Homo sapiens: one gene and its partner. The protein of the gene in region 1 interacts with the protein of each later gene in a biochemical or structural test. Each region holds a gene or a part of one and is shown in the gene's direction. Other genes may lie near its edges.

Region 1 (7,590 bases):
TGTGCTAGTATGGGGGTATATAAGGGTGAATAATGTAGTCAGTGCTCTGAAGGGTCCAAAAGTCTAATGAAATAGTCAAATAACTAAAGAGACCATCCATGATAGTTTACCTAATGAATGCTATGTTAAAGATAAGCATAGGGGTCTGGAGATCACAAGGGGGGGCATCAGCCACTTAGTTGTCCCTCTTAACTAATATTATAAGCATTCCATTTCACATTCAGCTTATTTTCCTTAGTCACTGCTTCCTTCATGCCCCTTCTGTGATCAAAAATATGATTGCTCCTTAATCCATCTCCCTTTAGTTTGTCTCATCTCCCTATCACTTTTCTAACTTTATGTTCCATGCCACCCTAAAGCGAACTTGTTTTTCAGTTCAGGCTCCTTGTATTGCCCCAGGAACATGCCATTTTCATTTCCAATATGGTCTTGTATGAACGATTTCTCCTTTTGTCCTCCCATCTGCTTATCCAAGTCCTGACTATTGTCTAAGGTTTATCTTAGTTCTTAACCATTGCCTCAAAACCTTTTAAGCTTATTGAGCATCTACTTTTCTTTACCTTATAAACATTCAGTTTTTAATTTAGTACTGACTTACATTGATAGTGTTATTTTTGCCACTCCACGGATATTGTGAACTCCTCAGACCAGGCATCCCATTGTGTGATACTTTCGTATACTTCATAGAGGCTAGCACAATGCTGAGCTCAAAAACTAGTTGTTGAATTTCAGTAAAAGTAAGTAGAGCATTTTTCCCAACATTAAAAGTTAGTGGGCATGAGATGACATTCTTTTGGTCTACTGGGAAAAGGGTATCTGACTAAAAGTTAGAAACACTTTTATTTTGCATAAAAATGTAACATTAAAACACAGAAGGAAAAAGAAAATGAATTCACTGAATTCATTTGTCTTTTCCATTGGTTCGTTGTCAATGTCTGATGTCCTGGCCATAATGGAAAAAACAGTTGGCATAAAAGACATGGGTTGAGACTGGCTCTGTCATTTAATATTGGGTTCTGAAAAAAGGCCAATCCTGAGTTGTAGCTTTCTCTCTGTAAAATGGAGTTAATATTACTCTAGATTATGATGAAGATGAAATTAAGTAGTGGATATGGAATGCTTTGTAAATTTGAAAGTAATGTAGAAATCTTGGATAGTGTTGTTGTGTTCCCATCTTGGATGATAGCTGTGAGTTTGCATTTTACAAAAATAATGGATATCTAGAATCACTATAAATAATGATCTACTGACAGTAACTGCTTTGATATTTCCAGGTCAGATTGGCTTTCTTGCCTCTCAGGAGGAGATAGACTTTTACTCTAACAAAGTGATGACCTGGGGGTTTCAGGGCATGCTTCCTGAGGAAGTGACATTCAGACCTGAAGGATGAGTAAAGCTAGTCAGGGGAAAGTATGAGGGAGGGGATAAGGAGATGACGGAGAAAGAATAACTACACTCTGGGAACTGAAAGAAGCTTCATCTAGATGGCTGAATGTTGTCATCTGAAATTGATTGCTTAATCCTGTTAATCCTTTTGATTTTAATTCTTCATGGAAGTGATCTATTAACATTCCTTTATAGCAACAATTGAATAGAATTTATTAACATCTTTTTTTCCTTATCTAGCACAGGTATATTTACTTACTAAAGCCAAAGCGAGAATCTTTTTCTTTAGACATTGTTCCATTGTATTGTGTTCTCTTTAGTTGGCATTTCCTCTGTTGCCATCAGTTACCTCCTTCATGTCCTTTTTGTAAACTATTAAGAGAATTAGAAAATTGGTGTTGGACAGGTTTTTGTTTGCTCTTGTCTGTAAAAACATGGCATGGTTTGAGATGTTTGGAATGGGTTCATTTGGTAATGTTAGGGACCGCTCATTTCTGCTTAAGAAGAATGGAGAGGAAAAACTGGGGAAATATTAGGGTTGGGAGTTCTGGAATAGAAAGCATTCAGAATGGCACTTAGCCTACACAGACTCTAAGTAGGTAGGGGCTGGATAAATGAATGTTCTACATTAGTATAGGCAGAACACATTAAGAGAAAGGAAGACAATGAAAGTGAACAACAAGCTGGTAGGTTAAGGTCCATATGCTGATGATTAGGAACTAAAGCCTCTAAAGAAAACAGGCATCCATGAGGATGCGGGAGCTTAGAAATCTCTTACTAACTTTAACTTTGCTAATTGATCCTTTGATATCATATAGTTTTATATTCATGTATCAGAACTTGCTAACAACCTCAGTAAACTTCATTCAGTTCAGTCCCATAAACAACAACAAAAAAATTGCTACTTATTTCTTGTAAACCATATAGAAGATCTGAGGGATACTTTACAGAGGGATAGGTCAGGCCTGGAAAAAAAGCCCTACCCTCAGGCACTGAGCTAATGGAAGAAAGACCAGGCATTCTCAGTATTTGGCTTGACTTGTAAAAATGCCATTCAGAAACTTGTAGGGAAAATCTGCTTTTAGCACATCACTAGTTGTTGCAGTATTTTTCTGCAATAATCAAAAAAGGCAATTGAAGACAAGGGTTAATCGTTACCAGGTTCTTTAATGCCAGTAAATATGATTGGTGTTAGAAATGTATGCTGACTATAACATTTATTTGTTGATTTTTTTTTCTTTTTTTTTTTTTTGAGATGGAGTCTCGTTCTGTCACCCTGACTGGGGTGCAGTGGCGCGATCTCTGCTCACTGCAACCTCCACCTCCCCAGCTGAAGTGATCCTCCTACCTTAGCCCCCCAGGTAGCTGGGACCACAAGTGCGTGCCACCACACCTGGCTAATTTTTGTATTATTTGTAGAGATGGAGTTTCGCCATGTTGTTCAGTCTGATCTTGAACTCCTGAGTTCAAGCAATCTGCCTGCCTAGGCCTCCCAAAGAGCTGGGATTACAGGTGTGAGTCACCGTGCCCGGCCAGGGAAGTTTTTTTAAACATTTTATTAGTAGTACTGGGTTTATTTTGAGCTATTTATTTTTTCTCTACATTTCCTTTTGAACCAACCACAAATTTGTGAGCCAAGTGATCAGTGGTAGAGGTTCTCTTATTGTGGAATAGAGTTTTGCTCCTGGTGAAGTATAGAGCTCTGTATAGCTAGAATAAAAAATACTGTGAATATCTGAGAAATGTAAAAGATTCTTTGTTATTTTTTAAATCGCCTTAAGAGATAACTGGCTGCTTAAGCAAAAATAGTAACAATGTATTATGTTGTTTCTAAGCAATTTAAAAATATTGTATAACAGCAGCCCAAAAAATGAATGGGAAAGTGGAAATACATATGCAAGGCTCTTAAAATACATGTGCAATGGGCTAATATCACTTGAAGACTGACTGTGATAAATTAAAAGATGCATTGGAAAATAACAAAGGAGTACAGTTAGTAAGACAATAAAGCAGATAAAATGGAATTGTAAGAAATAATATATAAAGAAGTAAAAAAAAAAGTGAACAAAGTGTGATCATTGAAACAAGGAGTTAATGTTCTGTGGGCTGTTTTTTCTGTTGTTGTTGTTGTTCGTTTAACTCACTCCCTACTCTTAGAGCTGAGCGTGAGGGTGGCCTGTATTCCTTTGTATCCAAAGTATTGGTAGGTACCCTTTCTAGAAGAACTCAATTCTGTACTGGAAGTCTTTCGCCAGTACTCAGGATATCTCTCACTTTCTACAATACGCCGTTTTACAGCCCCCACATTCACTCTGCACCTATCTCTATCCCTTCATTAGTACTTTAGGTGAAAAAAGGTTAGTGCTTTTACTTTGTCAAATCTAAGATATTGCATAATGAAGTAGAATGATCTTTGATTTTTCTTCAGTGCTGTCTCAACATACTTTATTTTTTCTTCCCCTTAATTCAGAGACATGAAAAATGCTGTAATTGGAAACAACAAGCAGAAAGCCAATCTCATTGTTTTAGGAGCTGTTCCAAGGTATGTTTGCTGTCTCACCCCTTTCTTGCCATTCATACTAGTTTCTAATGTATTTCTTACTCTCAATTATAGAACCCATTTTTCCTGTATTGTCTGTCTAATTCTTAAAATAAATCCTATTTTTAAAAATAAATGTAAGTATTTAAACTATCTTTAAGGAAAAAAATTATAAAGTAACAGAGAATGTAGTAAGAAGTGAATGTGTTAATACATTTTGGAAACTCAGGAAGACCTTTGACCTGATGACAAAAGGGTTCGTAAAGTACATATGCAATGTACAACAGCCTGATACTTTCTTCTCCATTTCCTTAGAGCCTTGGCAGTTTTTTGTGTGAGTGGGTAATTTATTAGGAGCCTTAAGACCTTTTTGAATTTAAAGGAAAAAAACCCTGCTTGATTTTTAATCCAGTTTCATTTTTTAACTTCTGATTTTTACAACTTGCTGTTTTTTAAGTTAACGTAAGAAGTTTAGGAAGTTTAATTTCTTCTTTTGATGACCTAATAAGCTTCCTTTAGGCAGGCAATGACAGTTACATAACTTCCTCTTTACTTTTGCTCCTCAGAGCTAAGTTTTCTGTGCAATTGCTATTAGCTTTTCATTCAGAATTATTTATTATTTTGTTTTTTTCTCCTTATTTTCTGGTTTTGATACAGAATTAATGGTTTAAGTGTTTTAACTCACCAACCTCAAACATATACTTTAGTAACTATAAAGCTGTCAGCAGCCTTTCTTAGGGGATTTATGTTTGGTATATATAAATAGTGCTTTATGGAGCATGAGGGTCCTGTCTTAGAACATAAGGTAGATGGTTATAAGTGGAGGAAGGTTAGGGTTTGGGGAGTATTTGTTTGGCAAGCTGGGCTGGAGTGGAAATGAGAGGATCTCTTCCTTTTCCAAATGAGAGAGCTGGAGAAAGAAGAAACTACCTTTGCTTGAGGAGCTGCACAAGGGCTCTGAATATTCCCTATAGGCTCGATATCTACAAACTGCACCACTGCTCTGGATTCAGAGCAGTAGCATTTCTAGTTTGAGTTTAAGATCTGGCAGCACATGGCATTTGAGAGTCTTCATATTTTGGAGACCCAGCAGGAAGTGGTAGATGACATGGACTCTGATGACGCTGTTTCTACAGAGACTATCTGTGGACAACTTTCAGATTTACACTTTTTATAAACTCTAAGAATATGATAGTTCTTTTTTTCAAAACCTCTTCTAGATTTTTTTTCCAGATGTTTCTTTAATTAGCAGATGAGATAAACAAATGACCATTGGATTCATATAAACTCAGCCAACCATATTTTTAGTATGTGGACTGCACAGCCTTTTTTGGTCACATTGAGTCTTGTTTAAATTTTTTAGTCTCTTCGTTTATTAAGTTCCTTCTTTTTAGATTGTTGTACTTGCTTCAGCAAGAAACCTCAAGCACAGAGCTGAAAACTGAATGTGCAGTGGTGTTGGGAAGTCTTGCTATGGGTACTGAAAACAATGTCAAGTCTCTACTGGACTGCCATATTATCCCTGCCTTATTGCAAGGTATGTAGGGAAGCCATTTTTGCTCAATTAAGGTTAAGAATCAGTTTGCAGTGCTTTAAATACTGGTTGAAAGGATTAGTCCTAAATCTCATTTCTGTTAATAGGACTACTGTCCCCAGACCTGAAGTTTATTGAAGCTTGCCTCCGATGCCTGCGTACCATCTTCACCAGTCCTGTCACTCCAGAGGAGCTACTGTATACAGTGAGTTTTAGATGTATTTGAGACATTAGTTACATTTCACCAACAGCCTACTCCTAATTTGCTTAGCATCTTCAGACTCATCATAACTGTGTTATGTAAAAAAGTCTCAGTTGGTCATGGTGGCTCACACCAGTAATCCCAGTGCTTTGGGAGGCTGAGGTGGGAGGATTGCTTGAGGCCAGGAGTTCAAGATCAACCAGAGTGACATAACAAGACTCCATCTCTTTTTTTTTTTTTTTTTTTGAGGTGGAGTCTTGCTCTGTCACCCAGGCTAGAGTGCAGTGGCGCGATCTCGGCTCACTGCAACCTTCACCCTGCCAGGTTTAAGCATTTCTCTGCCTCAGCGTCTGGAGTAGCTTGGATTACAGGCGCGTGCCACCACACCCGGCTAATTTTTTGTATTTTTAGGAGAGATAGGGTTTCACCATCTTGGCCAGGCTGGTCTTGAACTCCTGACCTTGTGATCCACCCGCCTCGGCCTCCCAAAGTGCTGGGATTACAGGTGTGAGCCACTGCGCCCGACAACAAGACTCCATCTCTACAAGAAAAAAATAAAAATAAATTAGCCTGGTGCAATGGCTCATGCCTATAGTCCTAGCTCATGAGACTGCAGTGGAAGGATTGCTTGAGCCTAGGAGTTTGAGGTTATACTAAGCTATGATGGTGCCCCTGCACCTCAGCCTAGGTGACAGAATGAGATCCTCTCACTAAAAATAAAAAATGATAAAAGTCTCCGCTGGGTACAGTGGCTCACGCCTGTAATCCTAGCAGTTTGGGAGTTCAAGATGGATATATCACCTGAGGCCAGGAGTTCGAGACCAGCCTGGCCAACACGGTGAAACTCCCATTTCTATTAAAACTACAGAAATTAACCGGGCACGGTGGCACATACCTGCAACACCAGCTACTCGGGAGGCTGAGCCATGAAAATCACTTGAACCCAGGAGGAGACGTTGCAGTGATCTGAGATCACACCACCCTACTCCAGCCTGGGCGACAGGGCAGACTGTCTGCTTTTAGAGACTGTCTCTAAATAAGTACATAAATAAAGTCTCAAAAAGTATTTGAGTTCTTTCTTATTTCCAAATATCAGATGCTCTCAGCTTTGTAAGAAAGTGAAAGATAGTCTCAGACTTTGAGGAATTTACAAGCTATTTTTAAAAAGACCCATTTTTATCTCTCTATATGTAGAACTTAAGTTTATTTTACGCTAGATGAATGATAGGGAGTTCAGCTGACTTTCGGTTGAAATCCAGCAGAGTAGGCTTTGCAGAGAAGCTAGAATTTAATCTGGGTTTTGAATAATGGATAAGACTTAGAGAAGTGGAGAGGAAGGCATGAGGCACCGTGCTCAGCCCAAATTCATTTCTTCTGGCTTTTTTTTTTTTTTTTTTTGGAGACGGTGTCTCTCTCACCGAGGCTGGAGTGCAGTGGAGGAATCTCGGCCCTGCAACCTCCGCCTCCTGAGTTCAAGCAATTCTCCTGCCTCAGCCTCCCGAGCTACTCAGCTGGGCCTACAGGCATGTGCCACCACGCCCAGCTGATTTTTGTGGTTTTAGTAGAGACGGGGTTTCACCATGTTGGCCAGGATGGTCTGGATCTCCTGACCTCATGATCTGCCCGCCTCGGCCTCCCAAAGTGCTGGGATTACAGGCGTGTGAGCCACTGCGCCCGGCCTCTTCTAGCTATTTTTCAATATACAATAGATTATTGTAAATTACAGTCACTTTACATGGGGCTTTCTTACTGACAGTTAGGCCAATATTTTTAAACACTCTTATTCACAGTTCACAGCAAGAAGCATATTTTCCATTGCCTCACTATACATGTCAGTTTGTGTATGTGTGTGTATATATGTGTATGTATGTATGTGTATGTGAAAGAATCCTGAGACAAGTTTCATGACATTGTTCCACAGATGTAATG
Region 2 (8,114 bases), on another chromosome or scaffold:
GAACCAAGAGACGCAGAACATGGCAGCTGTTGAATGCTATACTACGACAAAAAGTATATTTGGTCTTGGTCCCTGGTTCCGGTCACCAAGTGTCTAAAACCCTTGCGATTTCCTGAGTGTGGGAGCGTCTTCTTTCTTCATAAGGAACTCCTTCCCACCACACCTGAGTTTATGTTAATGAAGTGACTCTGGGTGGGGCCTCCAGATATCACTAGAAAGACCCGGAGATTGGTTGGCAGGAATTCTCAGCCCCTCTCCCACTCCACCTCCACCTCTGGGGATGAGGGGGGCTGGGGATTGAGATATGAAAATGTGTGAATAATGAGATTCAGGAGAGCCTCCTGGCTGGTGGATGCCCCGAAGTGCTGAGCGGCTGCCGCGCAGAGAAGGCTTGGGAGCTCCTCGCCCCACCATGCCCGATGCACTCCCGTTAGCTATTCCTGAGCTGTGTCCTTCATAATAAGCTGGGAAGCATTAAGTGTTTCCTGAGCTCTGTGAGTCATTCTAGCAAATTATTGAACCTGAGGAAGGGTTTGTGGGAGCCCCAAATGTGTCATCTGCCTTGTGGGTGGCCTGGGCACCCCATGTGCAGCCGTCACCTGGAGTGGGGACAGCCTTGTGGAACGGAGCCCTTGGCCTGTGGGGTCTGTGCTAACTCTGCGAGTGAGTGTGAATGGGGTTGGATTGTAGGATAGCCAGTTGGTGGCAGAGTCTGACAGCTGGACAATTTCAAGTTATATAAACCAAAAATAAGATACTAAGCTCCCCCAACTGACTGAATGGAACCCCCTACCCCCACCTTCAGCCAAGGGGGTTTCAAAGAAACCTGAAAAATCAGTTCAGGACACGATGGCGGCGCATGACTTTTCTTGGTCACTTGTCAGCCAGAGACCCCCAGCCAGCGACACCCTTGCTCAGGCCCAGGTTTGCCACAGGAGATGCCCATTCACTTGGCCCATCATGTCATGCCAGGCCCGCACTCCAGCGTTTGCGGCTGTTCCGACTGTGCACTCAGCCCCCAGTGGGAGGGGGTGTGAGCGAGTGAGTGCGGGGTCCAGCCAACGGTTCCAAGTGTCAGCACAGACGCAGGCTCCATGCAGGGCTTGTGGCTGGACCAGGCATGTTGCAAGCCACTCCCATGGTGGACTCCGGCGTCCAGACAAGGGGAACACGGTGGCGCCCAGGTAGGGGTGCTGTGATCCTGAAGCCCCAGAGGGGGTGTTACAGCATGCTAATTAGCTCTTTTAGTCTGCATCCTGATGGACAGTGGTGCGTCAACAGCTCTGTCAGCCGCTTGCCCCGCATCAGCCCATGGCTCCAGGGCTGGCTCAGTCCCACTGCTGCTTCTGTCACATGGGGTGGCTGCCCTCTGCTGGTGAAGGGCAAAGGGTTATGGAGTTACAGCCTTCTCTGTATTCACATTTGGTGCATCCTGAGCTCTTGTCCCACGTCCAAGAAGAATGATGATACACTGACAATTGAAGGGTGAGGAGGATGGAGAAGAATTTTATTGAGTGACAAAGCAGCTCTCAGTGGAGCAGGGATGTGAGGGTGGTCCCCCACCTGAAGTCGGATGGTTTCTCTCTCCATGTGGCTGGGTTTGGGGCTTTCATGGGCTCAGAGTGCACACTGATTGGTTTGTGAGGATGCAAAAATGGCTAAAACAAAGGCATCACTCAAAGGTGGGGACAACAGTGTAAAAAGCAATTAGGGGCTGGGTGCGGTGGCTCACGCCTGTAATCCTAGCACTTTGGGAGGCTGAGGTGGGTGGATCACAAGGTCAGGAGATTGACACCATCCTGGCTAACACGGTGAAACCCCATCTCTACTAAAAATACAAAAAAAATTAGCTGGGCGTGGTGGCGGGTGCCTGTAGTCCCAGCTACTCGGGAGGCTGAGGCAGGAGAATGGCGTGAACCTGGGAGGCAGAGCTTGCAGTAAGCCGAGATCGTGCCACTGCACTCCAGCCTGGGAGACAGAGCGAGACTCCATCTCAAAAAAAAAAAAAACCAAAAAAACAACCAACCAACAAACAAAAAGCCAATTAGGGAAGGATAGGTATATGTAAAATAGGTGAAGGGTGGGGACCAATCAGAGGAAAGCATGCCAGGCAGGAAGACAGGTTCCCAATCTAGTCCATGGATTTACCTGGGACTTGTAGGTCGGCTTTAAACTGTCTTCGGCTTGAAGGTCGGGTTTCACTGGGTAACTGCTCGGTCTGCCTCCTGCCACTATTAACGTGAAGGGAGAGTTGGACATGCCTCAGTATCCCCTCCTCCCTTTCGAGTTCAGGCACAAAACTTACCAGCATTAACATTAAAACAGAGATCTTAAGACTGACAAAACAGACTCTGTAGCAATAAGATGCCAAATTCCAACTTGACTCTAGTAGAGCATCACATGACAGATAGCTGGCCTTGAAGGAAATCAAAGTGTTTTACCCCAAAATATATTTCTTTGACATATTTTGAAAGGGCCCTGCAAAGCTGTCTCTTGTGGGAGAAATTTACATTCTGTAGGGAATCCCTTGCCCTTCCTTTCCGGGTCTTTTCTGATTCTGAAGAAGTTAATGGTTAACTGAGAGTCTAGCAGCTCTTGTTTTTTTTTTTTTTTTTTTTTTTTTTTAGGAGTCTCGCTGTGTCACCCAGGCTGGAGTGCAGTGGTGTGATCTTGGCTTACTGCAACCTCTGCCTCCCAGGTTCAAGTGATTCTCCTGCCTCAGCCTCCCAAGTACCTGGGACTACAGGTGAGTGCCACCACATCCAGCTAATTTTTGTATTTTTAGTAGAGACAGGGTTTTACCATGTTGGCCAGGATAGTCTTGATCTCTGACCTCGTGATCCGCCCGCCTCGGCCTCCCAAAGTGCTGGGATTACAGGCGTGAGCCACAGCACCCGGCCAAGTCTAGCAGCTTTTTAAGATCTAGATATGAAACATTTGCCATCTATTGCTTCTAATGGTGGCCACCTATGAGGCTTCATCTATGTAATAAGAACGTTGGTCTCCACAACCCCTTTTAACCCAGATGCTCCTTTCTCTCGATTCCAGATCTTTAGATAAGCACTCTTTCAACCAAATGCCAATCAGAAAATCTTTGAATCCACCTGTGAGCTGGAAGCCCCGCTGTGCTTTGTGTTGTCCTGCCTTTTCGGACCAATGTAAATCTCACATGTACTGATTGATGCCTACATCTCCTTAAAACGTATAAAATCAAGCTGTAACCCAACCACCTTGGGCATGTGTTCTGAGGACCTCTTGAGGCTGTGTCACTGGTCATGATCCTTAACCTTGGCAACATAAACTTCTAAACTGATTGAGATCTGTCTCAGACACTTTTTGGTTTACAAAAGGACTAATTCAAATACAGTTTTATCTTCCAACATAAGAAAACCTAGAATGAATGACTCAAAGGTTGTAGAGGGTTAAACAACCTCTCCAACGTGCAAACCTCTGCCTTATAATTCCTAAGTATTTCTGACTGTAGATGGTACTAGGATAGGATCATTTTACCATGGAAATGAAACCCGTGTCCTTTCCTTTGGGTTAATCTTGAATCCCTGGTGAAGTGAAGGCAGTCTCTAAGAGGAGTGCAGTCCATCCAACTGCTGCAGTGCTCCTGTGTACTACTGGGACCATCCCGGAGAGTGGCAGACACGATGCGAACCGTGAAAGGACGCAAAGAGTACAGAGTGCATGCTTCCATCTCTATAGGAAGGTCAGGAACGCTGTTACGGGGAGCAGGGTTAGAATGATGGGGATATAGCCCGGGAAGGGGCAGAGGAGCTTTCTGTGCCACGGGAAATGTCCTAAATCTCAACCAGGACACGGTTAGATAAAAGTGCAAATATGGGTGAAAATTCATTAAAGCTGTATAGTTAAGATTTGTGCACCTCACTGTAAAACTTACTTCAAATGTCTAAAAGACTGGAGTCTGCAGCCACACACTTGAGGAATAACACTTTCCTTAGTCCCAACTCCTGTTTAAGTAAGACAGAGAAAGATTCCACAGTGCGGGTCGGATGTCTTGCGGCTGTAACATGTAGCAGCCTCCAAGCGGAGGTTCTCCCTTCATCGCTGTGTCACCTTAGATGTTTTTCCTTTGTTTAAACACCAAATATTTTAAAAGTTGTTTAGAAATGTGTTATGTGAAACACAAGGTGGTTTAATTGGGACGTCATTTCCTAATTAATAAAATCTAATTTCAGTTTTATTTTGGAAAGGAGGGAGACGGGTGGTGTTTGAAAGGCTGAGAATGTGAAGTGGCTGAAATGAAGGCAGCGCACGACCTGGATGCCAGCGCTGCCCGCCCTGCAAGGAGAGGGCGGAGAGGCCACACGCTTCTCATGCTTCGGGAGTTTCTGTCCATAAATCAGTTTTAGGTACTGGGCCTTTCCTCTTCCGTTGGGAAGTCGGAGGTTCCACATCAGGATTCCAGCAGCTGTAAATCGGTCAAAATAAGGCCAAAGAAAAATAGCTGGCTACAGGCGCATGCGGCCAGGCGTTTTGTTGGCGTTGCCCTTGGTACCGCAGGCACGAGGGACCCACAGGGGACCACCCCGCGGGAGCCCCAAGTAACTGGACGGACGCCAAGTCCCCCAGCCCGCTCGGCCCCAGCTCCACCCGCCCGGGCCGCAGCCCGCACCCCATCGGCCCGCCCCGGGCCAGGAGCATCCCCAGCTCCGGCGTCTGCGGCCTGAACCCGGTAGCGAATTCAAGGTGGAAACCGCCAGCCGGGGCTATCGTTGATTGGCTGAACGAGAGGAAACCCGGCAGTGATTGGTTCGCGCCTTCTTCCGCCTCCGGCCGACTGGGCGGATACGATTGGTGCAGGGGCATCGGCCCGCCCCCATCCTGCTCCGGCCGGCGCGTGGCGTCATTTCCCGGCGTGCAGCGCGCTCGCGCGTCCCCCGCCCGCTAATGTTTTGGCCGCTTCAAGATGGCGGTGCAGGAGTCGGCGGCTCAGTTGTCCATGACCCTGAAGGTCCAGGAGTACCCGACCCTCAAGGTGGGCGCCTGCGCCGCGCAGGCTGAGGGCAGCGAAGGCGTCTCCAGCCAGTGCCCTCGGGCCGCGAGGGGCCGCCCCGGGAGGGCCAGCGGCGAGGGCGGCGGGAGCTGGGCGCGGCCTCGCGGGGCCGTGCGGGCTTCTCAGGGGCGCCCGGTCCGCGCCGGGCAGGTGTGGCGGGGGCGGCGGCTTTGGCCCTGCCAGGCGCCCGACTGTGGCCCCTCTGCTTGAAGAGCTGCGTGAGCCGAGCCAGCGACGACTCTGGCAGCGCTAAGGGTGGCGAATTTGGGGCTGGGGTGGAAGCCGGAGTTTGCGGGGCGTGGGGTCTCTGGCGCCCAGGCAGACGGAGTGCGCGGCGTGCCCAGCCAGTGCCCGGCCGCCCTCCCGGGAGCCCAGGGCTGGGAGGTGCCGGCTGCGCCGGTCGCTAGTTAGGAACTGTAGGGAGAAACCTCACGGCCTGATGGCACCCAGCGACCTTTTTGATGGGCGTCACCAAACCTGAAATACAGCTCTTGCCGTCCGGCTGCCGGTTGCGTGACCTTGGGTGGTCACCTAGCCACGTCGCACTTCTTAGAATGAAATTTGTGCTCCTAGTAGAAGGAGCCGATACTTGTTCTTTACCTAGTTAGTAGAGGATTTGATATGAAGCACCTGGGAAGGAATTCCTTAAAAGATCAAGGTCATAGCTTTCCTAGAGCTGCGGCTGAGCTTCGTGGTTCTGTGTTGCCTTCCTGGAGAGCTGCGTAGTTTCTCTCTCCTCCCAGAGCGCCCTGGTGTTCACGTCCGTCTGAGGACGGACGGTGTGGCGACAGGTGTGGAGGATGCAGTATGGCCAGGTTGCTGTGCGTTCCCCCAGCCCCAGGGCAGTTCAGCGAAGGGCTGAAGAGCACAGGCTGTGAGCCATCCTGCTGGGGTGTGAATCAGGCTTCTCTGTATTCGTCCTTACTGGGAGACATCAGGGCCCGGTTGGTGACTGTTTATTCTTGTCAGGTTTAAGCAGTGGTAGCGCCTGTGTCACCTCAGGGTGAAATGAGTGACCACGTATTGTTTCAAACAGTGCCTAGCATTCATTAAAAGGTCCCTGCTACAGTTAGCGCTGCTGAAGTCAGGCTGTACCCTGCTGTAGCTGGTCTTCATAGGAAAGCAGAAGCAAGCTTCTCCTCCTCTTTATTAACTAGCGGTTTATTTCATATTTTTAAAAAGAAACGGGGTTTCACTGTTGCCTAGGGTGGTTTTGGATTCCAGGACTTAAGCGATCCTCCTGCCTTTTGACCTCCCAAAGCGCTGGGCTGACAGGTGTGAGCCACGCGCCCGCCACACTAATGGTTTCGCAGTGGGGTTTCATGGTGCTTGTGTGTCCAGCACTTCTTTTGATCAAGGAAGGGAGGGCAATGTTGCTGACGTTACCAAAGGTCTAGCCTCTTGCTAGATCCCTCCAAGATGTAGGTGGTTGGTTTTTAATACTCAGTGACATTGGTGGATCTCTGTTGGTTTAGAGATGGAGACCCTGCAGCTGAGAGAAGTCTATACAAGGACATTGTGGTGATATTAGTAGGGAGTCCTAACCACTGACCACTTTGTCTCACGCAGTGCACCTCCAGGCCTGTCATTTCAGCTAACACACAAGAAGGTTTGAAGATCAGAACCGTGGTGGTTTGTCACTTCTGGTACTGGCTGGTGAATGTGGGAAACACTAGATAGGAAAAGTTTCCAGAAATCCTTTCATTGTGTATTGAAGGAACTAGGAAGGGAGATGGAAGGTCTCCGGAAAGGATTCTTCTTCAGGTCTTCTGCTGTTTTGTAATCGTGAATGTAATTTGTATTCCAGAGTGATTGCATAGCTTCTGATTAAAATAGTCATGCAGATAGTCATACAGGTAAAGAAATATTATAGTGTCATAATTTCTCTGTTGACACTTGTGTCACTACTGAGTTAAAACTTTTTTTCATAGAAGTTTTCAGGAGTGATTCCTAGTGGATAATGGAGGTGTTTTGCTGGGAAACTAGGGATCCTTGATTTAGAAGCATTTATTGGTATAGAACTAAACAGAACATGCTGAGCTCACAGCTCAAGAGCTGCACTCTTCAGTTTCCAGGAGGGGCCAGTGCAGATGTCAGAGAAGGGACCGAGGGCTGCAGGACCGGGGTTGTGGAAGGTGGGGGGTGGATGTTCTGCTTCTCTAGTCTGAGAGCAAGTCCTCCTGCAGGGTGGTAGCAGCTGGCATGCTCTGGACTGGATCTTCACCTGGTAATAGTTAAACTGCTTTCCTGCCATGTGAGTCCTCCACAGACTCACAGGGGATTCCTTTCTCTTCAGAGGGCTTGGTAGCCCTAGGTGGGTTTCAGCAGTAACACTTGGGATGTCTGCTTCCTCACAGCGTCAGGGCGGCTGGTGGGGCTCCTGGGTGCCTGGCAGGTACTTATTTTTCTATTTTCCTGGTGAAGTGGGAAGAGAATGGAACAGACGTGAATTGCTGCAGCCAACACGCACTGACCTTGGGCACCTCTGTCGTCATGAGCTTCTATTTCCACCAAAGGGGTGGACCGGCCTGCGAACGTTTGGGCTGGAGGAGCCTTTGTCGGTGGTGGGGGCTGTGCAGTCTAGGATGTCTAGCAGCATCCCTGGTGTCTGCCTGCCAGATGCCAAGAGCATGCCCCCAAAATGTCTTCAGACATTGCTAGATGTGCCCTGGGGGCATGCACACACCCCTGAGAATTGCTGGGCTGGATCCTGCTTTAAGGGACTTGTTTCTTCCTCTTACCAAACGGAGGTGTGGCTCATGAGGACTCAGCCTTGCGTCCTGGCTGTGGCTGTGTCTTTTTGCTGTCAAATGCTGTGAACGCCGTCCGGTGTAGGGTGGTGGGTAATGCCTTGTGGGGGAGGGGAAAGATGAATAACTCACCATCTTTTTTTTTTTTTTTTTTCTTTTTTGAGACGGAGTCTCACTCTGTTGCCCAGGCTGGAGCGCGGTGGCACAATCTCAGCTCACTGCAACCTCTGCCTCCCAGATTCAAGCAATTCTCCTACCTCAGCCTCCCGAGTAGCTGAGATTACAGGCACCCGCCACCATGCCCAGCTAATTTTTTGTATTTTTTAGTAGAGACGTGGTTT

Evidence for each region.
Region 2: the proteins of ARMC8 (region 1) and MAEA form a complex in vitro, tested with the Homo sapiens proteins (one study listed by BioGRID).

What each region holds. Positions count from the first base shown.
Region 1 is NC_000003.12:138,218,070-138,225,659, forward strand, and holds part of ARMC8 (armadillo repeat-containing protein 8), read left to right. Parts: intron 1-3,856; coding exon 3,857-3,928; intron 3,929-5,319; coding exon 5,320-5,462; intron 5,463-5,566; coding exon 5,567-5,664; intron 5,665-7,590. UniProt on the Homo sapiens protein: Component of the CTLH E3 ubiquitin-protein ligase complex that selectively accepts ubiquitin from UBE2H and mediates ubiquitination and subsequent proteasomal degradation of the transcription factor HBP1.
Region 2 is NC_000004.12:1,284,978-1,293,091, forward strand, and holds the start of MAEA (E3 ubiquitin-protein transferase MAEA), read left to right. Parts: upstream 1-4,913; 5' UTR 4,914-4,936; coding exon 4,937-5,005; intron 5,006-8,114.